Regions from separate parts of the Homo sapiens genome. Here region 1 is linked to region 2. Evidence: fine-mapped expression QTL. A gene starts in region 2. The other region holds a variant in brackets. All regions are shown on one strand. Distances are between the middles of the regions. Region 1 holds the start of NOC3L (NOC3 like DNA replication regulator). Region 2 holds the start of TBC1D12 (TBC1 domain family member 12).

Region 1 (11,983 bases), 37 kb before region 2:
TCATCAGGGAAATGTAAATCAAAATTACAATGAGATATCATCTCATCCTAGTTAAAAAGGCTTTTATCCAAAAGACAGGCAGTAACAATGCTGGCAAGGATGTAGAGAAAAGGGAACTCTCATACACTCTTGGTGGGAATGTAAATTAGCACAACCACTATGGAGAAAAGTTTGGAAGTTCCTCAAAAAACTAAAACTAAAAATGGAACTACTATATAATCCATCAATCCCACCCACTGCCAGGCATGAATCCAAAAAAAAGAAATCAGTATACCGAACAGATATCTGCACTCCCATGTTCATTCAGCACTATCCACAAGAGCCAAGATTTGGAAACAACCTAAGTGTTCATAAACAGATGAATGGATAAAGAAAATACGGGGCCAGGCGCGGTGGCTCACGCCTGTAATCCCAGCACTTTGGGAGGCCAAGGCGGGCAGATCACGAGATCAGGAGATCAAGACCATCCCAGCCAACATGGTGAAACCCCGGCTCTACTAAAAACACAAAAATCAGCCAGATGTGGTGGTGTGCGCCTGTAATCCTAGCTACTCGGGAGGCTAAGGCAGGAGAATCACTTGAACTGGGGAGTCGGGGGTTGCAGTGAGCCGGGATCGTGCCACTGCACTCCAGCCTGGCAACAGAGAGAGACTCCATCTCAAAAAAAATAATAATAATAATAATAAAAGAAAATATGGTACATGTACACAATGTAGTATTATTCAGCCACAAAAAAGAATGAGATCCTGTGTGCAACAACATGGATGAAACTAAAGGCCATTATGCTAAGTTAAACAAGCTAGGCACAGAAAGACAAATTTCACATGTTCTCACTTATTTGTGGTAGCTAAAAATTAAAACAACTGAACTCATGAAGAGAGTAGAATGATGGTTACCACTGGCTGGGAAAGGCAGTTGGAGGAGATAGGAGTAGGGATGGTTAATGGGTACAAAAATACACTTAGAAAAAGATCTAGTATTTGATAGATAGGATGACTATAGTCAACAATAATTTATTTTATGTTTTAAAATAACTAAAAAAGTATAACTGGATTGTTCGTAACACAAAGATAAATGCTTGAGGTGATGGATACCACATTTACTCTGATGTGATTATTATGCATTGTATGCCTGTATCAAAGTACCTCATGTATCCCATAAATATATACACCTACTATGTACCCACAAAATTAGAAAAAAAAAAAACTTTAGCTGGGTGCTGTGGCTCACCCTTGCAATTCCAGCACTTTTGGAGGCTGAAGCAGGAGGACTGCCTGAGCCCAGGAGGTCAAGGCTGTAGTGGGCTATTTTTGCACACTGCACTCCAGCCTGGGTGACAGAACAAGACCCTGTCTATTTAAAATAATAATAATAATTTTTAAAAAATGGACCTGAGAAGACTGAATAGTTGTCTAATAATCTGATATAGTCAAATAAGAATACCCTAAAAGTACCAGCAAAGTTGTAGAACTAGCCTGACTCAAAATAGTCATATTCCTTACAAGTTTTGAGTACTTAATAATTTTTAGATAGTTTTACAAAATAACCATGACAATTACAACTCAATTTCACCCCAAGTTTCCACATGAAAAGAAAGTCAGAAGTTTAGAAGTGTACCTTGGCAATACTGTGAAGAATGAACCAGAGACAAGCAATGTTCTTACCTTACCTAACTGCTGGTGAATGGCAAAGTGGCAGCACTGGCACACTGCCCAATATTTATGTAACGGAGTACTTTCAGTTTGTTTTCCCAAGTAGTGCATCTTCAGATCTGCCTTCCAGACAAACTAAAAGCAGAAGCTTGAATGAATACTGTATTGAAATGTTTTCTCATACTGACTGTGATAAAGCATATATGCTTTATAGCAGTCCTATAGGACTACTATCCTTACCCACTCTAGGAAGATCTGAGAACAAGAAAAGCGATTACTAGAAAGCAAAGTTATTTCCATGAAGAACACTTCAGAATAAATCAATGGAAACCAGAGCACATGATGTTTTCACAATTACCTGGTCGCTTTTCCTTTGGGTTCTCCAATGGAATGGGTTTCTTAGACACAGCATCTTTCACAGCTTGCCTTAGTTTCCTCTGTTCTTTTCGGTACTTCTTGAGAGTGCTTTGTTGTTTAAACTGCTTATTTTTTAGCTTGTTTTCAAGTTTGACTTTACTAGTTTTTATTAACTTGCGAAAGCTTGGGATCTGTTTTTTATTTCTTCTCTAGAAAATAACAGAAAGAATACTGCATACCCAGAAACTTATTTTTTAAATCAGGTTAAAGAGAACTGATTACAAATTTCATTAGACCAATTCCACAATTTCAATGTCCCACAGCCACAGACTTGCATATAAAAGCTAAAACCAAACGATGGCTTTAATCCTACAGAAGAGCGCTACAGCATCAGTTATTCAATCCCAATTCACAGCAATTCAAAGGGTTCTACGATCCCCAAACAGGTTAAGAACCACTGATCTAGTAGTGGTAAGTGGCTATTCAAGGCTAGTTTAACACACCTGTAGTTTAACACATTCAAAGCAAAATGCTGGCTGTCTTTAATAAAACTTACATTTATCTACGATTTTATTACTTACAAAGTGCTCCAACAAATCACCTCTAACAGCCTAGTTGAGTACTGACTGCTGTTATCCTCACATTACTGATGAAGCTGCCAAAAGACCCATAAACTAAGGAGGGCAAAACTGAATTCGGATCTTTGGATTCCACTTCTCTTGCTGGTGACTCATTCAGAAATCCCAAAGTTAGTCCTGAACCCCAGGACTACCTCTTATTTTCTGGGAGAACCAGGACAAATCACTTGCTTTTCTATCTCTTTACCCTTCATGGGTACCGTGACTCACATTATAAACTCGCTGAGGGTAGGACCCTGCTTCTCATTTGTGAAAAACGAGTTCGAAAGACGGTCTTGAAAAATTCCTTCAAAGTATGAAATCCCACGCATGCAAAACTCCGTGCCTGTCTCTTCGTGATACTCTGAAGTGGTGCGCGCACACAGTGGGTAACCAAGGATGAGCTCGGTGTAAGGAATGGAAAGCCCCCAGTCTAAACCACCGCCCCCTAGACACGGGTGAAAACCTGCCTAAAAGCTAACTCAGGCAGTGACTCTATCACCCGAAGGGGCCCTAGGCCGCGGCGACCGGGCTTTTGAGGACACTTACCGCCTTCATCCTTAGGCCTTAAATGAATGCCGGCCAGACAAGTTCACCAGAAGCAGGGTTACTACAGAAATCCCGGGGAATGACACACGTGCCGAAGTCCCTACACTACCAGAGCCGGAAACGGCCTTCAGTCCCTCCCAATCCTCCGCCGCCGGAAGTGAGGGCGGGACTTCCGTAGACAGGTTCGGGCTCGCGCCCTCTCGCGGTGACTGTCTCGCGGCCCTGGACCGGTTGCCCCCCGGCGTGCGCGCGCGGACTGGCACGAGGGAAGCCCCGAGGGCGTCGGTGCCAAAGGCGGGAAGCCGGGCGGGAGGGGCGCATTTTGCAAGGTTATCTGAGTATGATTCTTTGACTCTCGCCCTATTTATTTCTTTTAAAACCTTGGGGAAATCGGGCTCCTCCTCTCAGAATGAGAGGACTTGGTTTTTTCGGTCACCTCATTGCATTTTGTGCCTCTCCTCACGTTGCTTATCTCATGCTGTTATAGATACTGATTTTCGTAGTCTTTTTCCTCCATACAGTCCTGAGGGCAGAAAGAAGCTTATTTTTTGTGTGTAATGCCTGCCCCTCGACGGACATTCTGGCCGTGTTTGTAGCATGGCGAATGATTTCTCATCAGCCTTGGTCACTTAAAAGTCTGTGATTCTTAGTGTTTTATTTTGCATTTTTTTTTTGCTTTAATTTTTAACCATTAGCTGATAAAGAACTGTATCCATGGCTGGGTGCGGTGGTTCACGCTTGTAATCCCAGCACTTAGGGAGGCAGAGGCGGGTGGATCACCTGAGTTCCAGGAGTTCGAGACCAGCCTGGCCAACATGGTGAAACCCTGTCTCTACTAAAAATACAAAAATCAGCCAGACATGGTGGCGTGCGCCTGTAATCCTAGCTACTCGGGAGGCTGAGGCAGGAGAATCGCTTGAACCCAGGAGGCAGAGGTTGCAGTGAGTCGAGATCACACCACTGCACTCCAGCCTGGGTGACAGAGCAAGACTGTCTAAAAAATAAAAATAAAAATAAAAAACTGTATCTGCATTTCAGTATCTTACAACTTTGGGTAAATTCTGTCTGCTTAGTAATTTCACCAAAGTCGTTTTTTGTTTTTGTTTTTTGAGACGGAGTCTTGCTCTGGCGCCCAGGCTGGAGTGCAGTGGCGCAATCTGGGCTCATTGCAAGCTCTGCCTTCTGGGTTCACGCCATTCTCCTGCCTCAGCCTCCCGAGTAACTGGAACTACAGGCGCCCGCCACCACGCCCAGCTAATTTTTTTTGTATTTTTAGTAGAGACGGGGTTTCACCGTGTTAGCCAGGATGGTCTCGATCTCCTGACCTCGTGATTCGCCCACCTTGGCCTCCCAAAGTGCTGGGATAACAGGCATGAGCCACCGCGCCCCGCCTAAAGTCGTTCATTTTTACAGGAAGTTTTATGGATTGCAAGAATAAGAGTATCAAAGTGCTTGTCTCTCAAAGACTTTTTTTTCTCAATAAATTTAAGCATTCCACTTCAAGTTTTTTGTGGGTTTTTTTGAGTCTATGATTTTTGAGCATGGCCCTGACACAGAGTCTGGCCTCGCAGTCCTGAGCAGGTGGGAAAACCCAGTAGTGCGGCTCAAAGGGTTCTGAGCCCCTTGAATAGTGTTGCTCTTAGAGAGACTGAGGGAAAAAAGTACCAATTTCCTGATCCCACCACAAAGACCAAGAGGTCCATCTGGCACTCTTCTTTCAACCTCCCTTCCAACTTCTTCCTTGCTCTGTCTCCTTCCACACAGTGTCAGAAACAGCAGAGCCTGTCCCGCTGGAGTATTACTTCATCAAACAAGTGGAAAACATCAGCCTGTGCTCTTCCCAAGTGCCTGAATTCCCTCCCAAGCATATCAACATATCTACAGTCACTCCCATCCTTTTAGCCTTCCTTCCAGTCTCTCCAAGGATGAGGCATCCCCATTCCAGTTCAAAACCAACTCCTCCCAGCTTCATCAGATTCTTGTATCATTAATTATCCCTTCTTTCCTGTGTTCTTTCCCTCTCTAATAGATCCTTCCCCTCAGCTTATAAACATATTCAAATCTCTTCCATTTTTAAGATTTGTTCTAATAAACTTATCTCCCTTTAATTGCTCTTTTATGTGCCTCTTTTCCTACTTGTCCCTACTTCCAGAAAAAAGTATTCTTTTAGCGTCTCCACTTTCTCTTCTCTATTGTCATAGCCCAATCCTGTGCTAGTATTTTCTTTTTTAATATAAAGATTGCCTTTTTTTATTTTTTTTCTCTGTTGCCCAGGCTGGAGTGCAGTGGCAGCTCTCAGCTCACTGCAGCCTCAACCTCCCAGGCTCAAGGGATCCTCCACCTCAGCTTCCTGGGTAGCTGAAACTACAGGCACGCACCACCATGCCCGGCTAATTTATATTATTTGCAGAGATTTGGTCTTGCTATACTGCCTAGGCTGGTCTCAAACTCCTGGGCTCAAGCAGTCCTCCCACCTCAACCTCCCAAAGTGCTGGGATTACAGGCATGAGCCACCATGCCCAGCATGTGCTAGCTTTTTTAAGAACTGTGTCATACTCTTGGCCCATTTTAAGTTTACAATCAACTAAAATCTCTGGATCATTTTAAAGCAATTGTTGCCAAGCTAAATCTCTCCCATCTTGAATTCGAGCAGCCTGTTGTTCGAAAATACTCAAAAATGGAAGTTTATATGATTCCTTTTAATTCCATTTAATCTTGCTGGTTTCTTAATTCTGTGTGTCCACCTTTGTGTCATCTCTTCTTCACTCAATCCA[C/T]TGCCAAGCCCCATTTGGACTCCAGATCCTCTTAGATCCCTTAGAGCTTTCCTGGACACTTGAGCTGATAAGGGTCACTGGGCTTTCCCAAACTAGTATCACAGGGATTGTACCTGGAGATTCCTGTTAGCACTTTCAGGAAGTCTGTTAAGAACTTACGTGGCTTTGCCCATAACATTCCGCTGAAACTGATCTAATTAAGGTCACCAAGAACCTCCAAAGTGTTGTGAGTTTTTTCTAATTGTGTACGGAATTACATTACTTCTTTCTCATTTAACCTCACTAGATCTCTCTGCTGCCTTTGATGCTACGCGTATCTCCCTTCACACATTAGAATGTTGATTCCCTTGGCTTTCCTAATAGCCTGTTCCCCAGGTTCTCCTCCTACCTCCATTTCTTCCTCCTTAGGCTTCTTCAATGTAGGTGACTCTCAGGGTTCTACTCTTGGCCCACTTGTCTACCACTCTTCTTGCTCTACTTGCTTTTCCAGCGTGATTTCATCCATCTACCTATTACAAAGAGATTTTGTCCAGCCTATACTTCTTCCCCAAGCTTCATTCTTATAGCCATCTGCCTCCTGGACAGCTCTACCTCCTAACCATGGGACTTCACATTACCATGTTCAAAAGAACTATTTTTTTTCACTTGTACCTCTTGTAACATTCCCTATTTCTTTCTTTTACCCACAGCTAGAATCCCAAATACTCCAGAGATCTTTGTCAACAAGCAAGGGCTTTCTTGGCCATTTACCGTATTATAATTAATCCATTTTCTATAAACAAACAGTTTTGAAAACTGTCACTAAGTGGACATGGAATAATAAACAAGGCTTCTTTTTTTCCAGTACCACAAGATAATTTACATAAGTTATAATAAGGGACTATATGAATGTTTGTCACTTTGTAGTAAGTGTTTGGCGATAGAAAAAGCCCACACTTCAGTATCACAAATTAGAAAATAAACATCGTAATTGGATGTTATCACTGTCAATCATCTTAGACATAAAAGAGGCAGGCAGGTTGCCCTACAGCTCACCCAAAGGGGACCTGTGGAAATTAGAAAAAGCTTCCATGTCCTTAAGACACTTCACTGTCATAGATCAAAAAAAAAAAGTTTGCTATCTTTACAAATAAACTGTGAATGACGCCCCTGGAATTGTACAATATACAGTCCTCCCTTATGTCGAAGTGCTTGGCTCTGCCTAGGCCTCTTTCTGTTTCCCTTCCTAAAATTCAGGGGAAACAAAAACAAAACTAAACTAAAGTAAAATAAAATCCAGGGGAGGGAAGGAGTCTAGAATCTCTGTTCAGACCTTTGAGATAGTGCTACAGCCAAGGGGAAAAAAAAACAACTCACTATCAGAGAGCTAAAAAAACATAACTGTAATATTTAAGTAATATTTAGATATTACTGTCCAGGCATTGTGGCTCCTGCCTGTAATCCCAGCACTTTGGGAGGCTGAGGCAGGAGGATTATTTGAGGCCACGTGTTCAAGGCTACAGTGAGCTATGAGGGTGCCACTGCACTCCAGCCTGGGCGACAGAGTGAGGCTATCGCAAAAAAAAAAAAAAAGAAAGGATTTGAAAATACGTATATCATGGTCTCTACCTTTGAAAATGTTAAAATATTGTTGAGAAATTGTGTGTGTGTGTGTGTGTGTGTTTGTGTGTAGTTGAGAATGATAATTATGAATTACCAAATAGAGAATAATAGAAAAGATCACATAGGTGCTAAAAAATAAAGACAAGCTGCTTTAGAGGAAGTCATAGAGCAATGTATACCTAAATGAGAACAGGAGAAAGGACAAAGTTTAAATAGATGGTATAATTTGTTCTAAGCAAGGTCACTCAGGTAGTACAAATAATTTATATTGTGGTGCATCAGAAAATTAGGTTAAGATAGCTAATAATTATAATTAATTATTAAATTAAAAGTATTAACCAAAAACCAAAATAATAGCAAACATTAGAATAATGATGTAGCAGATTTTTTGTCCTGCTGAACCCACAGCTTGAATCACCCCAAAAGCAGTGGTAGGCCAGGAATTAGTGGCTTCAGTGAGTTATGATCTCACCACTGCACTCCAGCCTGGGCAACAGAGCAAGACTCCATCTCAAAAACAAACAAAAGCAGCGACAGGGAAGTTCCCACAACGGTGTGTCCCAAACTGTCTTGAGAAAAGGCCCCCAGTTGGGATGCCATAGAAAGAAGCATTTTTTTTTTTTTTTTTTTTTGAGACAGAGTTCACTCTTGTGGCCCAGGCTGGAGCGCAATGGCACGATCTCAGCTCACCTCAACCTCCGCCTCCCGGGTTCAAGTGCTTCTCCTGCCTCAGCCTCCTGAGTAGCTGGGATTACAGGCATGTGCCAACATGCCCGGCTAATTTTGTATTTTTAGTAGAGACAAGGTTTCTCCATGTTGGTCAGGCTGGTCTCGAACTCCCAACCTCAGGTGATCCGCCCGCCTCGGCCTCCCAAAGTGCTGGGATTACAGGCGTAAGCCACTGTGCCTGGCCGAAAGAAGCATTAAATGCCGGGGTGATCAACCCAAAACAATTGTTAGGAGAACTTACCTACAGAGTGCTGTGGCAATCCTCATGATGGACAGTGAGAGAAAAGGGGTGTGGACCTAGGTATGTCCACAGTGAGGGGGTCAGGGTACGGAGTTTATATGAGGGTTTAAGGTATGTGACTCAGGGCCTGAGCCAGTACTTTCAGTGTTTTGGGCAACAACTTAGATACTTTTACCAGTGCCTGGGACTGTTCAAAGCCCCAGTTTGTGTTGAAGCCTGCTGGGATGAACCTGCAGATGGCTAGGTCACAGAGCAGTCAAGGCACTCTAATTTTTTATTCAGGACACAGAAAGAAAGCCGCAAGGGGCTGTGCGGGAGGTCTCCTGGGGGCCCTACACAAATGTTGTTGGTGTCTCGTCTACATATCCTCAGTACTTCGTGTTCCATACATGCTGAAAAAGTCCTCTGAGCACTTGCAAATTTTCACTTAAGGACTTTTTCTGGACCCCTGTAGGGCAGGTCTGAAGTGCCACAGATTTTTCCACTGGAAGCATCCTCAATCAACAACAAATGGTAATTGAAGGATAACTATAGCAATTGTGGTAGGCTGAAACATGACTTCCAAATATATGAAGGCTAAGTCCCTGGAAACATGAATATTAACTTATACAGGCAAAGTTGTGATTAAGTTAAAGATTTTGAGATGAAATGATTATGCAAGTGGGCAATCACATGAATCCATTTAAGAGACAGGAGATTTCACACAGACAGACAAGAAGGTAATGTGACTACAATAGGCAGAGATTGGAGTGATGTAGACAAGTCAAGGAATTCTAGCAGCCACCAGAAAGGGGAAGAGATAAAGAACAAACTCTCCCCTAGAGCTCAGTCCAGTGATATTAAGTTCAGACTTGCAGCCTCTAGAACTGTGAGAGAATAAATTTCTGTGTTTTAAGCCACCAAATTTGTGATGATTTGTTACAGCAGCCATAGAAAGCTAATATACCAATAAAATATAACAAAAACATACCAATGTCCTTAATCCTCAGAGGTAGAACACCTCTAAGGCAGCGCTCCCCAGCCTTTTTGGCATCAGGGACGGGTTTTGAGGAAGATAATTTTTCCACAGATCAGGGTGGGGGATGGTTTCAGGAAGAAACTGTTCCACTTCAGATCATCAGGCATTAGTTAGATTCTCATAAGGAGCGTCCCACCTAGATCCCTCAAATGTGCAGTTCACAGTTGGGTTCAAGCTCCTATGAGAATCTAATGCCTCCACCGATCTGACAGGAGGCGGAGCTCAGGCAGTAATGTCACTCACCTGCCGCTCACCTCCTGCTGTACAGCCCAGTTCCTAACAGGCCGCGGACTGGTACAGGTCTGTGGTCCCAGGGTTGGGGACCCCTGCTCTAAGACATCTTCCACTTTGTCTCCCAAAGATTGAGTTCCACCTGCAGAGATATCCTACTCATCAGCACACACTATTAGTGTCCTTTGCTTCCCTGCCTCACAACCCCACCCTGCTAGAAATGGTTCCTGGACTCACCTTCAAAATAAACCACTTGCACTCAAGTCCTTATGTATCTGTTTCCTTGGGCTGCCGTAAAAAAGAACCAAAAATTGGGTGGGTTAAAACAACCAAAATGTATTATCTCACAGCTCTGGAGGCAAGGTGTCTAAAATCAAGATGTTGGCATTGTTTGTTTATGTTTAGGGCTCTGAGGAAGAATCTGTTCCATGCCTCTGTCCTGGATTCTGGTGACAGCTGGCAATCCTTGGCAATCTTTGGCTTGTAGATGCATCAATCCAATCTCTGCCCCCATCTTTACATATTATTCTCCATGTGTCCCTCTGTCTTCACATGTCTGTCTTCCCCTCTTATAAGGATACTAGTCATATTGGATTAAGGGCCCACCCTAATGACCTCATGTTAACTTTATTACATCTGCAAAGACCTTTCCAAATAAGATGATGTTCATAGTTACCAAGGATTAGGATTTCAACATATCTTTTTTTTTTTGGAGGGGGGACACGATTCAACTCAAGATCAAATTCAGAGGACCCCAGCGTACCACTTATTTAGGTAATTTTTATGTTTCCCTAGATATGAATTATTTCATTGAATCCTCAATAATCTTATGATATAAATATTAGCTGTGTTTAATTTGTTTTTATTTAATTAATGAATTACAGGATTAGATATTACAGTGTGGCCAAGTTTGTGTTTACACCAGATGGGAAACATAACAAGATGCCAGTCCTGCTAGTGGGAATAGTTTTCCAACAAAAGGGATCAAATGCCTTAAGCTGTTTTCCTAATCTGCAATATTATGGTCAGGGAAAAATTTTAGAGGGATTTTCCTAGGGTTGTGATACATGTTCTTTTTTATTTAAGATGTTTGTTGATAAATTAAGCTAAGAAATGACATTTCCTGTTTCTTTACTTACATTGATTGTTCAAAGCCATTCTTTATTTATTCATTGTCTTTCAAAATCCCTAGGGAAGGAAAAGTGGATGCCATGCACAAAGTCATGCACAGTTTCTGATAGTCCTTTGAGCAGCAATAGTTTTTCACCCTCCACTCTGTACCAGACTCTGCTAGGAGCTCGCTGTGAAAGAACGTTCTGTAAAACAAGGATGTATTGTCTCTAGGTCTCTATTCCAAAGCTGCTGGGAAGTATAGCTGAATGGGAAGGAAACTATCAAATAAACTAACATCTAAGGTATCATGTATATCATCCTCACACCTCCCACAATGCCAGTCCTACTTATTTTATTTTTTAAATTTACTATTATTTATTATTTTTATTTTGAGACAAGCTCTTACTCTGTTGCCCAGGCTGGAGTGCGGCAGCTCAATCATGATTCACTGCAGCCTTGACCTCCTGGGCTCAAGTGATCCTCTTACTTCAGCCTCCAGAGTACCTGGGACCATGGGTGCACACCACCATACCCCGCTAATTGTTTACCTACTTATTTTATTAATAATACTCTGTGCTCCAAGCCAGGCTCAGTGGCTCATACCTATAATCCCAGCACTTTGGGAGGCCAAGGGAAGTGGATCACCTGAGGTCAGGAGTTCAAGACCAGCCTGGCCAGCATGGAGAAACCCCATCTCTACTAAAAACGCAAAAATTAGCCAGGCATGATGGTGTACACCTATAATCCCAGCTACTCAGATGGCTGAGGCAGGAGAATCACTTGAACCCGGGAGGCAAAGTTTGCAGTGAGCCAATATTGTGCCACTATACTCCAGCCTAGGCACCAGAGCAAGACCCAATATCAAACAAACAAACAAACAAACAAAAACTCTGTACTCCACCTATCACCGAAGTTCAAGTCCTGCCTGCCTTTGGTTACAAATTTGGAAATACTTGTGCATATACTCCAAAGACCTGGTTGGGTGGCATTTATGCTTCTGATTTCTTTCCTTCATTTTCCAAGCTGCTACTGCTGATCTTACTTAAAATTCACTTGGGCGAATAAATGCATAGGTAAGTAAAATCAGTGGATATCCATGA
Region 2 (11,983 bases):
ATTGTTGTATGCCACAGTAATAACAAAATTTGCTTGCTCAAAAGTAGATAGCTACAGTCTAAAATTTGCTTCTTCTTCAAGAAAAGTCATGGAAAAGATTCTGATAAGTACTCTTCAATACAGGTTTCTCATAACTTTAGAGATCATACCATTAGACTAGGCTTAAAAAAAAAAAAAAACAGCTGGACATAGTGGCTCACGCTAAGTTTTGTATTTTTTGTAGAGATGGGGTTTCATCATATTGGTCAGGCTAGTCTCGAACTCCTGACCTCAGGCGATCCGCCCGCCTCAGCCTCCCAAAGTGCTGGGATTACAGGCGTGAGCCACAGCATCTGGCCCAACCATCAATTTTTAAAATGTCACAAAAGGACAAGCCAGGTGCAGTTATGCCTGCCTGTTAATTCCAACTATTTGGGAGGCTGAGCCAGAATGCTTGCTTGAGCCCAGGAGTTCAGACCAACCTGGGTAACATAACAAAACTCAGTCTCTAAAGTGAAAACAATTTTTTTAAAAATTTAAATTATGAAAGGAAAAGTGTAAATATAAAATCCATCATTTTCTTTTCCTGTCTATCTTTTTTTTATCTTTATCAAGCTAGATATGCAGTTTCATACATCATTGTAATTATGGTATGCAATTGTGTATCTCTACTTTTTATTATTATTTTGTAAAACATCTCCATATTTCTGCATTCTGTCATTTTAATTGTATTCATAATGTTTCATCGATATACCTAGTTTTTCCTACGGTTTCATATTATTGATTATTTAGGTGATTTCTAGTTTTTAACTCTTAAACTTTTTGCTATCAGCATTTTTTTTTTTTTTTTTGAGACGGAGTCTCTCTCTGTCGCCAGGCTGGAGTGCAGTGGCGCGATCTCGGCTCACCGCAACCTCCACCTCCTGGGTTCAATCGATTTTCCTGCCTCAGCCTCCCGAGTAGCTGGGTCTACAGGCATGCACCAGCACGCCCAGCTATTTTTCTGTATTTTCAGTAGAGATGGGGGTTTCACCACGTTGGCCAGGATGGTCTTGATCTCTTGACCTTGTGATCCACCTGCCTTGGCCTCCCAAAGTGCTGGGATTTCAGGCATGAGCCACCGCATCCGGCCGCATCAGTGTGCATTTTTAACCATTCATCTGTCTCTTGGTTTGTGGCAGTCCCACTATGGCTTACCAAACAGCAGCTGCCTCGTGATCTTACTATCATTCATTTCCCACACATATCTCACCCTGCTGAGTTAATCTGCAGTAGGCATCCTTTCAGTACTTGTTATCTAACTATAATCTGCAACCTTAGTCTAGTCACCCTCTCTTACCAGCTGGGGTTTTACCAGGCACGCATGGAATTTAAACTATTTACAGAAGTTGAAGATTTCAGTAGCAAACCAATTCGCATAGTCTTATAAAAATTGTACATTCCACTGCTTTACAAAACAGAATGTACTAAATGCCATTGAATTGTACACTTTAAAATGGTTAATTTTATATTATGCAAATTTCACCTCGTGTAAAAAAACAATATACGAGATGTCTGGACATAAGGATTGTAATACGATGGTAAAAATGAGGGTAGCTGCAGGAGTCTAATCTCAATCTTTTATCTTTTCAACCTTTGTCGTTTGCCTAAAGAATTTATCTTGCAATTTTCTTTCTGCTGTCAAACATTTCCTAACTTATTCATGATCTCAGCTCACTGCAGCCTCCACCTCCCAGGTTCAAGTGGTTCTTGTGCCTCTCAGCCTCCTGAGTAGCTGGGATTACAGGAACGTGCCACCTTGTCCAGCTAGTATCAAAATATGTGTACATAAAAATAAAAATTGTCCAGACATCTTCTATATTGCTTTTTTACACTTGAGGTGAAATTTGCCTAATATAAAATTAACGATTTTAAAGTGTACAATTCAATGGCATTTAGTACATTCACAGAGTTGAACAACTATCACCTCTATCTAGTTTCAAAATACGTGCCTGTTCACCTCATTTTCATTCAATTCATTTTATACTCCCAAAAACCTTTATATCCATTAGATAGTCACTCTCTATTTGTCTTTTCCCTCAGTCATTGATAATCACCAATCTGCTTTCTGTCTCTATGGATTTATCTATTCTGGATATTTCATAGGAATGGAATTATATGTTATCTATTTTTTTTTAAGAGATGGGGTCTTGCCATGTTGCCCAGATTGGAATGCAGCAGCTATTCACAGGCATAATCATAGTTCACTATGATCTTGAACTTCTCGGATCAAGAGATCCTCCCACCTCAGCCTCCCGAGTAGCTGGGACTATCCAGGTACACACCACCACAGTGCTTTTCACATTCATCCACCTTGTAGCATGAATCAGTATTTCTTTTCTTTTTCACGTCTGAGTAATATTTGGTTGCATGGATATACCATATTTTGTTTATCAGTTCCCCTGATGATGGACATTTGGGTTGTTTCCACCTTTTGGTTATTATTGGTAATGCTGCTGTGAACATTCATGTAAAACATTTTTTTTTTTTTTGAGACGCAGTCTTGCTCTGTCGCCCAGGCTGGCGTGCAGTGGTGTGATCTCAGCTCACTGCAAGCTCCACCTCCCAGGTTCAAGCGATTCTCCCTGCCTCAGCCTCCCAAGTAGCTGGGATTAAAGGCACGGGCACCACTGAGCCAGGCTATTTTTTTTTTTTCCTCGAGACGGAGTCTTGCTCTGTCACCCAGGCTGGAGTGCAGTAGTGCGATCTCGGCTCACTGCAAGCTCTGCCTCCCCAGTTCACGCCATTCTCCTGCCTCAGCCTCCTGAGTAGCTGGGACTACAGGTGCCCGCCACGACACCCGGCTAATTTTTTGTATTTTTAGTAGAGATGGGGTTTCACCGTGTTAGCCAGGATGGTCTCGATCTCCTGACCTCGTGATCCACCCTCCTCGGCCTCCCAAAGTGCTGGGATTACAGGCGTGAGACACTACGCCCGGCCTTTGTATTTTTTTAGTAGAGATCGGGTTTCACCATGTTGGCCACGATGGTGTTGAACTCCTGATCTCAGGTGATCCACCTGCCTCGGCCTTCCAAAGTGCTGGGATTACAGGCATGAGCCACTGTGCCCAACCCACGTAAAACATTTTTGTTTGAACACCTGTTTTCAATTCTTTTGGGTATACACCTAGGAGTAAAATTGCTGGCTTATAAGTAATTCCATGTTTAACTTATTGAGGAACTACCAAACTGTTTTTCATGGAAGCTGCACCATTTTACATTTCTACCAGAAATGTATGAAGGTTCTAGTTTTTCCACATTCTTTTCAACATTTGTTTTCTATTTTTTTGATTATAGACATCCTGGTGAGTGTGAAGTGCTATCTCATTGTAGTTTTGATTTGCATTTCCTTAATGACTAATGATGTTGAGCATCACTTCATATGCTTATTAATATTCCATTAACATATGTTTCTTAGGAGAAATGTATATTCAAGTCCCTTGCCCATTTTTTTAGTTGGGTTGTTTTTCAGTTGTTGATTTATACAAGTTCTTTATTTATTCTGGATACTGCACTCTTACCAGATATACAATTTGCAAATATTTTCTCTCTTTTTATATTTTTTCCACTCGTGTCCTGAAAGTCATTTTTTCCTTCTGAAATACCTTGATAATAAATGCATTGCTGACTATGCCTTTGCCACTTAGTCCTTTCCTAGGGCCTTCAATAACGCTTATTTTCGAAGACACTTGATGTTTTTATTTTGTTGAGACAGAGTCTCCCTCTGTCGCCCAGGCTGGAGTGCAGTGGTGCGATCCTGGCTCACTGCAAACTTCGCCTCCTGGGTTCAAGCGATTCTCCTGCCTCAGCCTCCTGAGTAGCTGGGATTACAGGCGCCCACCACCACGCCCGGCTAATTTTATTTTATTTTATGCTTTTATTTTTAGTAGAGATGGGATTTCACTATATTGGCCAGGCTGGTCTTGAACTCCTGACCTCAAGTGATCTGCCTGCCTCTGGCTCCCAAAGTGCTGGGATTACAGATGTGAGCCACCACGCCTGGCCTCTTGATGTTTTTTTAAATTGAGTGTTAGGTACATGCATGCCCATTTTATTGACATTTTATTATATAAAGGTTATATTCCCTCTTATATCTGTATGTATAGGTATTTTTATATGAAATAAATTTTAAATGCTTGACAATAATGTCTCCTCTACGACTTCTATTTTCTGTTCTTGCATTCACTAACATACTTTTAGAATGAATGAGTGGTCTATATTCTATATACTTTTATAGAATGAGTGGTCTATATTTTCTGCTTCGTTTTATCCACAACTGATGCCTCTTCAATTTCTTGCAATACAACTTTTTTGTCCTGAAATAATGAAACATTTGGGTCTGTGCCCGACCCTTATCATTATTCTTTCTTCCTAGGTAATGTTACTCATGATTCATCCACCTACTTGCATTATACAGATGACGCCTAATCTGTGTCTCTGAACCTAAACCCTAACCCAAGTTTTATTATTTATTTATTTGAAACAGTTTCCCTCTTGTTGCCCAGGCTGGAGTGCAGTGGTACGATCTGGGCTCATTGCAACTTCAGCCTCTCGGGTTCAAGCGATTCTCCTGCCTCAGCCTCCCAAGTAGCTGGGATTACAGGTGCCCACCACCATGCCCAGCTAATTTTTCGTATTTTTAGTAGGGACTGGGTTTCACCATGTTGGCCAGGCTGGTCTCGAACTCCTGACCTCAGGTGATCCACCTGCCTCGGCCTCCCAACGTGTTGGGATTATAGGCGTGAGCCACTGCGCCCAGCCAACTCAAGTTTTAGAACTCTATATGCTGGATATTTTCAGTCGTTTACTTTACCAGATGTATTTCCCCTATTAATCGTTTTTTTCCTATCCACTTTTCTATTTCTTCAAACCATATCAGTTTCAGTCTCATATCTTTGTAGTAATCATTGGTTACTCTCTCTTCTGTCACTTCTGATCAGTTATCAAGTCTTTCGTCTTTTACTTTAAATATACTTCATTTCCACTCAATGGTCAATCATCCCATTTTAATCCACTATCGCAGAGTGCTGGAATTATTTCAATAGCTCCTCTCTGCCTGACCACTTCCTCTCCCTCCTTAGGTGATAATCTTTTTTTCTTGTTTGAGACGGAGTCTCGCTCTGTCGCCCAGGCTGGAGTGCAGTGGCGCGATCTCGGTTCACTGCAAGCTCCGCCTCCCGGGTTCACGCCATTCTCCTGCCTCAGCCTCCCGAGTAGCTGGGACTACAAGCGCCCGCCACCATGCCCAGCTAATTTTTTTGTATTTTTAGTAGAGACAGGGTTTCACCGTGTTAGCCAGGATGGTCTCCATCTCCTGACCTTGTGATCCACCCGCCTCGGCCTCCCAAAGTGCTGGGATTACAGGCGTGAGCCACCGCGCCCGGCCGGTGATAATCTTTTAAACAGAGGACTGTGATGAAACATGGTGCTAGGTGAGCAAGATAACTTAGGATATCTTTCTTTTGTGTTAGATGAAGTGAAGAAGGGAGGGTGTTGACCCTCCTGGATGAAGTGATGAAGCCCTGAACTGTGGCAATGATGCCGGAGAAGGATGTAAAAATCGTAAAGTCGACTGGTGACCAATTAGAGCTGGAAGGACTTACCCACGCTAACACCTCCCAAATATGGGAGTATTTTACTACCATAAATGAAATACATCAAGTGAATTTTTGCTAAGCGAGCAATACCCGCGCTTCGGTAAGAACTGTCACGCTTAGAGCGGGCCAACCAGCTTCCACCATCCAGATGGCGGATCCTAGATTGGCAGCCTGCGTCTCTCTAGCTACCGTCTCTATGGTTCGGGGAATCTCCAGGTCGGGGCTTGACCGGTCCGACTTTTGCGCGTGCGCGAGTCCTGGCGCGTGCCCGCCCTCAAGCAACTGTCCGACCCAGCGGGTGGGAGGGGTGGGTCTGGGAACGTTGCGGCGGCTGTCGCCGCGGCCCCAGCACCCAGAGCTGTTCTCTGGCCAAGCCTGCGCCTGTAGTCCTTCTTTGCCTCCTGGGGCGGCCGCCACCCACCCCCAGATGGTGGGTCCGGAGGATGCCGGAGCCTGCTCGGGAAGAAACCCCAAGTTGCTCCCGGTGCCTGCGCCGGACCCCGTGGGCCAGGACAGGAAGGTAATCCGGGCCACGGGCGGCTTTGGCGGAGGCGTCGGCGCTGTGGAGCCGCCGGAGGAGGCTGACGAGGAGGAGGAGGCTGACGAGGAGGAGGAGACGCCGCCTCGGCAGCTCCTTCAGCGTTACCTCGCGGCGGCCGGGGAGCAGCTGGAGCCGGGGCTCTGCTACTGTCCGCTCCCCGCTGGCCAGGCCGGCGCCCCGCCGCCCTCGGCAGCCCCACGATCGGACGCCTGCCTGCTGGGCTCGGGCTCCAAACACCGCGGCGCGGAGGTGGCTGATGGCCGCGCGCCGCGGCACGAAGGCATGACCAACGGCGACTCGGGTTTTCTGCCGGGCCGGGACTGTCGCGATCTGGAAGAGGCTCGCGGGCTGGCGCGCGCCGGCGGCCGGGAGTCGCGCCGCCGCCGCCCCTACGGCCGCCTTCGCCTGGAGGGGCCTGGCGACGAGGACGCGGACGGCGCGGGAAGCCCGTCCGATTGGGCCTCTCCGCTTGAGGACCCGCTGCGGAGCTGCTGCCTGGTGGCCGCGGACGCCCAGGAGCCCGAGGGCGCGGGCAGCGACTCGGGGGACAGCCCCGCCAGCAGCTGCAGCAGTAGCGAGGACTCAGAGCAGCGGGGAGTCGGCGCCGGGGGTCCCGAGGAGGGCGCGCCCCCTGCCACCTCGGCCGAGAGGACTAATGGGGGTGCGGAGCCGCGCCTGGGCTTTTCTGACATTCACTTCAACTCTCGCAACACGTTCCAGGTGAGCCGCGGTCAGAGCGCCCGCGATCACCTGCCCCCGGCGGGGCCGCCGGTGCCCTTGCCCGCCGCGGAGCAGGGTCCTGCGGGGGCTTCGGCCCGGGCTCGACGGAGTGGCGGCTTCGCGGACTTCTTCACCAGGTACAGCGCAGGCTGCATGGGACTCGGGGCGGGTCCGGGGCCGGGGCCGGAGCCGGGGTCTTGGTGGGAGTCGGAGCCGGAGCCGGAGCCGGAGCGGAGAGCTTGGTCGGCCGCTTCCGTGCCAGCCCCACACGCGTCAGGACTTAGCTTTGATTTGTCACTGGAGGAAGAGGAACTGGGTCGGCTTTGTGTTTCTATAGGAGAAGTTGTGAGCTCTGTGGACAGCGAGTCTTTCTGTTGCCTTGTCCGCGGGAGGCTGTACCTGCCATTCATACCTGGCTTCTGAGCAGTCAGGTTGGGCCAGCTGTCTAGTGCCACATATGCAGTTGCCTTTTCTGGAAAAGCAGATAACCATCTCCGTCTCCAATTTTTAAAAATTTTACTACAAACATTTAGGTTGTTGGGGGGGTGGTGAGGGGAGGCGGTATGTGTGTACGGGTGTGGTTGTGAAAGAGAGAAGGAAGTCATTTTGTAGAGCTGTTTATTTGCTGTGCTTGCATAGCGTCTAAATCCATTCAAGTGGTTTGGGAATTCTTGAAATTAGAAGTGGTTGTGCTTCATAGTGTTTAATCGTTTGTTTCAGTGGTCTTTATTAAAATGCAGTTTGGTGTTTAGAATTTTATCCCAACTTTTTAAGCCAAAGTAGGGCTTTTACTAAGGAAAGCCTTTTTTCTAATCTCCCAGATAAGCCTCTCCTTTTTTTCCCCAATAACTTTAGTTTTTTTAAAAAATGGTATTGTATTTGTGATTTGACAGGATATTCTTGAAATTAAATTATGGGCCGGGCGCGGTGGCTCACGCCTGTAATTCCAGCACTTTGGGAGGCTGAGGCGGGCGGACTATTTGAGGTCAGGGGTTCGAGACCAGCCTGGCCAATGTGGTGAAACCCGGTTTCTACTAAAAATACAAAAATTAGCCAGGCGTGGTGGCAGGTGCTTGTAATCCCAGCTACTCGGGATGCTGAGGCAGGAGAATCACTTGAACCTGGGAGGTAGAGGTTGCAGTGAACCTAGATCGTGCCATTGCACTCCAGCCTGGGGGACAAGAGCGAAACTCCGTCTTTCAAAAAAAAAAAAAAAGAAAAGAAAGAAATTAAATTATGGTGCTGGACTTCGCAGATTTCAGGATGGAGGTTTGTTGATTTAATAGGGATAAATAAGAGTAGTCAGAAAATACTTAATACACCTTACTGTAAGAGCAGTCCTGTAATCCCAGCACTTTGGGAGGCCGAGGTGGGTGGATCACCTGAGGTCAGAGTTCGAGACCAGCCTGGCCAACATGGTGAAACCCCGTCTCTACTAAAATATACAAAAATTAGCCGGGCATGTTGGCAGGCGACTTAATCCCAGCTACTTGGGAGGCAGAGGCAAGAGAATCGTTTGAACCCAGAAGGCGGAGGTTGCTGTGAGCTGAGATCGAGCCATTGCACTGAAACCTGGGGAATAAGAGCTAGACTTCTCTCAAAAAAAAAAAAAAAAAGGCAGTTTTCCTTGAGTTAGATTTTGACACGCCTTTTTCTTCTTCTTCTTCTTCTTTTTTCTTAAGTCCCCAGGCAAATAGGAAAATATTCCCAACTTGTAAAACTTTCCTTTACAGAGTTCTCCCTACTTTGTTTTTCTACCTTTTCGGGGATCTTGACTATAACCAGAAGTGAAAGAAGCAAATTCTTAGCTCAAGTTTTAGCAGGTTATACAATTAGCGTACATATTGTAGACATAAAGGCACAATTTTCTGATTATAATTGATATTTCTTATTCCTCTTTCTAGTTTATCCTTATTTTTTTGCTTGTATAAATTTACAAATATAAAGTTTCTTAAATCAAAAGTGGAAAATCCTAATTTTTTGTTACTCAGGACAATATATGTAGTAATGACATCTGTATTTGTAATATAGTTGCAAAAATATATTTAAAGCTTGTACTGGCAGTATTCTAAAAGATCTCAAGGTGAGTTAGGTTTATAAATTTGTGACACTGTGTGGCCTTTGGGTGTTTGTTGGTCATATCTATCTTGGTCATGTTTTGAGGTCAGATGTCAGGCAATTTTAGATCTGGGAGGGGCTTTGGAGATAACAAATTCAACTAGTATACTCTTGAGTTCTTGCTCTCTGCCATGCATTGTGAATAGAGATGATTTAGAAAACTGTCCCTTACCTGCAGGTGGGGTGCAGGCTAATGGGGATTAAGTTTGAAGACAGATGCATATATATACATTGCAATTTCTGAACATTTTTTTTTTTTTTTGAGATGGAGTTTCCCTCTTTTGCCCAGGCTGGAGTGAAGTGGTGCCATCTTGGCTCACTGCAACCTCTGCCCCCCTGGGTTCAAGTGATTCTCCTGCCTCAGCCTCCCAAGTAGCTGGGATTACAGGCACCCGCCACCACGCCTGGCTAATTTTTGTATTTTTGGTAGAGACCAGGTTTCACCATGTTGGCCAGGCTGGTCTTGAACTCCTGACCTCAGGTGATCCACCCGCCTCAGCCTCTCAAAGTGCTGGGATTACAGGTGTGAACCACTGCCCCAGCCAACAATGTTATTTATAGGAGGCTTTCATATTATTAACAGTAGGCAGGAATTTTATTTTTTCTTTCATTTCCCATGTGTTTTAAGTAGGCAGGAATTTTGATTTAATTTGTAAATTTTTTTTACTTATAGACTAATAGAACTTAATATAGCTAGATGACATTCATATGGCCACATTATTCATATGTGTCAGAGCACTGGATTTGAAGTCAGAAAACAGGTGCCCTAAAGTTAATTTCTCTAAGCCTCATTTTTCCTGATAGAGGTCTGAATGTCAAGACTCTAGGAGTCAGTGCTTCCTTTATATGACATTCTTGGGAAAGAAAGGGCAGAGTCAGAGAGGCACAGTTTTTCTTAAATGAATTCTGAACACCTTAAAGGCAGGAACTGTGACATTCATCTCTGAATCTATAATACCTAGCCACTGGTATGAAGAACACCATTCAGATTGGGTTGAATAGGTAGCTTTCATGGATTCCCTTTTACTGTGCTCTAGCTAGGTAGTGTAATTTTGAGCAGAATCTCCATCCTCAGTGAAAATAATCAGAAATTACCCCTGTCTCACAACACAACCCAAGAGATCCAACCCTACCCCTAAATGCATAGTTGCTATTCTCAACTCTGAAGCTCCAGGTGAGGGCTCTCTTTGGAAGTGGCTTGTTTGGGATGGAATCTTGTTCTTGGGTGCAACCCTTACTCCCACTTCATTTTTTTAGATGAGGAATCTCATTGTCTAAAGAAGGTAATTTAGTTAGCTAGTGGCATGCTGGGATTTGAAACCAGGATTCCTGATTTCCCAATCCATGTTTATGTTCAGTCTACAACCTTTGTTCACTTTATGGCTCTTTTCTCTCCCACCTATTTATCCTCCATGCTTTCCTTCTTCTTCCCTTCCCACTTCGTTCTTCTCTTTCCCTTAATTAGGCAAAAATCTATACGAGAAACCTTAAAAAAAAAACAGTTTTATGTTTACTTAAGTAAAGAGGGGGGAGCATTTTACACAATGTATCTATTACTACATAGTATTATGTTAAGACACATCATTTTGGTAGATATATAGGAAAAACAGGAATTCATTTAGAATATGACTGCTTTCATTTGGAGGGCCTTAGTGGTCATCTCCCACTTTCCTTCCCTTCCACATGAGGTGAGTTCTATTTCAGTCCCTACTGGGGGCTTGCTTCAGCTTCACATGGACACCTTTCTGTGTTTATGGTGACTTGGCTGTCAGAGCCCTAAAAGTAACATTCCCTCAGATCCTTGACCCTTTCCTGTCTATAAAAATTGAAATGCAGCTGGGCGCAGTGGCTCACGCCTGTAATCCCAACACTTTGGGAGGCTGAGGCGGGTGGATCACCTGAGGTCAAGAGTTCGAGACCAGCCTGGCCAATGTGGCGAAACCCTGTCTCTACTACAAATACAAAAAAATTAGCTGGGCGTGGTGGTGGGTGCCTGTAATCCCAGCTACTAAGGAGGCTGAGGTAGGAGAATTGCTAGAACCCTGGGGGGAGGTTGCAGTGAGCTGAGATCGTGGCACTGCACTCCAGCCTGGGTGACAGATTCCGTCTCAAAAAAAAAAAAAAGTTGAAATGCTAGATGGGTACCACTCAGCAGTAAGGAGGAGTGAAAGCTTTTTTGAAGTCTTTTGTGTTTCCAAGCTTGCCTTAATTCCCCAAAGATCCATTTGTTACTCTTTTTAAAAAATAGTTCTAAGCTGGGCATGGTAGCGTATGCCTGTAGTCCCAGCTACTCTGGAGGCTGAAACAGGAGGATTGCCTGAGTCCAAGAGTTCAAGGCTGCAGTGAGCCATGATTGAGTCACTGCACTCTAGCCTGGGTGACAGAGTGAGACCATGTCTCTTAAAAAAAGTTCTAAACCGTTTTTGTGGGTTCTTCAAGTAAATTCATGTCTTGTTTTCTAAGTAGAATGGTTTATTTTTTACATAGATAGACTCTTTCATAGTTTTCTGTTTGTTTGTTTTTAGGCCATTTAATAGTTTTGAAGCTTGTTAGGATTGCATTGGCATAGTTACTGTTTTTAAAAACATAGACACTTATCTGTGTTTCCTGGTAGTGCTGATTTTTTTTCCCAAGTCTTTATATGAATTTGGTGAATAAAGGGCATTGCTAAGGTAGGGAAGGAATAATTGGAGATTTTTTTCCCTTTATCTGAAAAGAAAATTGACTTTATAGATTTTGAAACATACAGATCCATGTGGCTTTCTCTGTAGTTGTTGACTTCTGAAACTTCCTAAATATTGTGGCAAAAGCTATTTTCACAGAGCTCTTTTTACAATGGTTGGGTTGAGTAGGAAAAACTAAAGGCTCTTTTAGTGATTTCTTTTTACATCTAGATAGTCTCCATTCTCCCTAATATGAAAACCAATGAAGTTTTTTTGTTTTTATTAAATATGACATGGAAAAATCTAAATTCCTATAGGTATAGTTTT

Evidence for each region.
Region 1: its variant is fine-mapped to the expression of TBC1D12 in blood mononuclear cells (TOPMed, PIP 0.95).

Annotation. Positions count from the first base shown.
Region 1 is chr10:94,359,655-94,371,637 of GRCh38, forward strand. It overlaps NOC3L (NOC3 like DNA replication regulator), which reads right to left and starts at 3,285. Exons shown (of 21, transcript NM_022451.11): 1 at 3,176-3,285; 2 at 2,011-2,218. The coding sequence starts at 3,184. RefSeq lists an enhancer at 2,959-3,218 and a silencer at 3,359-3,488. The variant C/T (reference allele first, on the strand shown) is at 5,950.
Region 2 is chr10:94,396,573-94,408,555 of GRCh38, forward strand. TBC1D12 (TBC1 domain family member 12) reads left to right here and starts at 5,969. Exons shown (of 13, transcript NM_015188.2): 1 at 5,969-7,012. The coding sequence starts at 6,042. RefSeq lists enhancers at 5,717-5,876, 7,177-7,476 and silencers at 6,207-6,696, 6,767-7,096.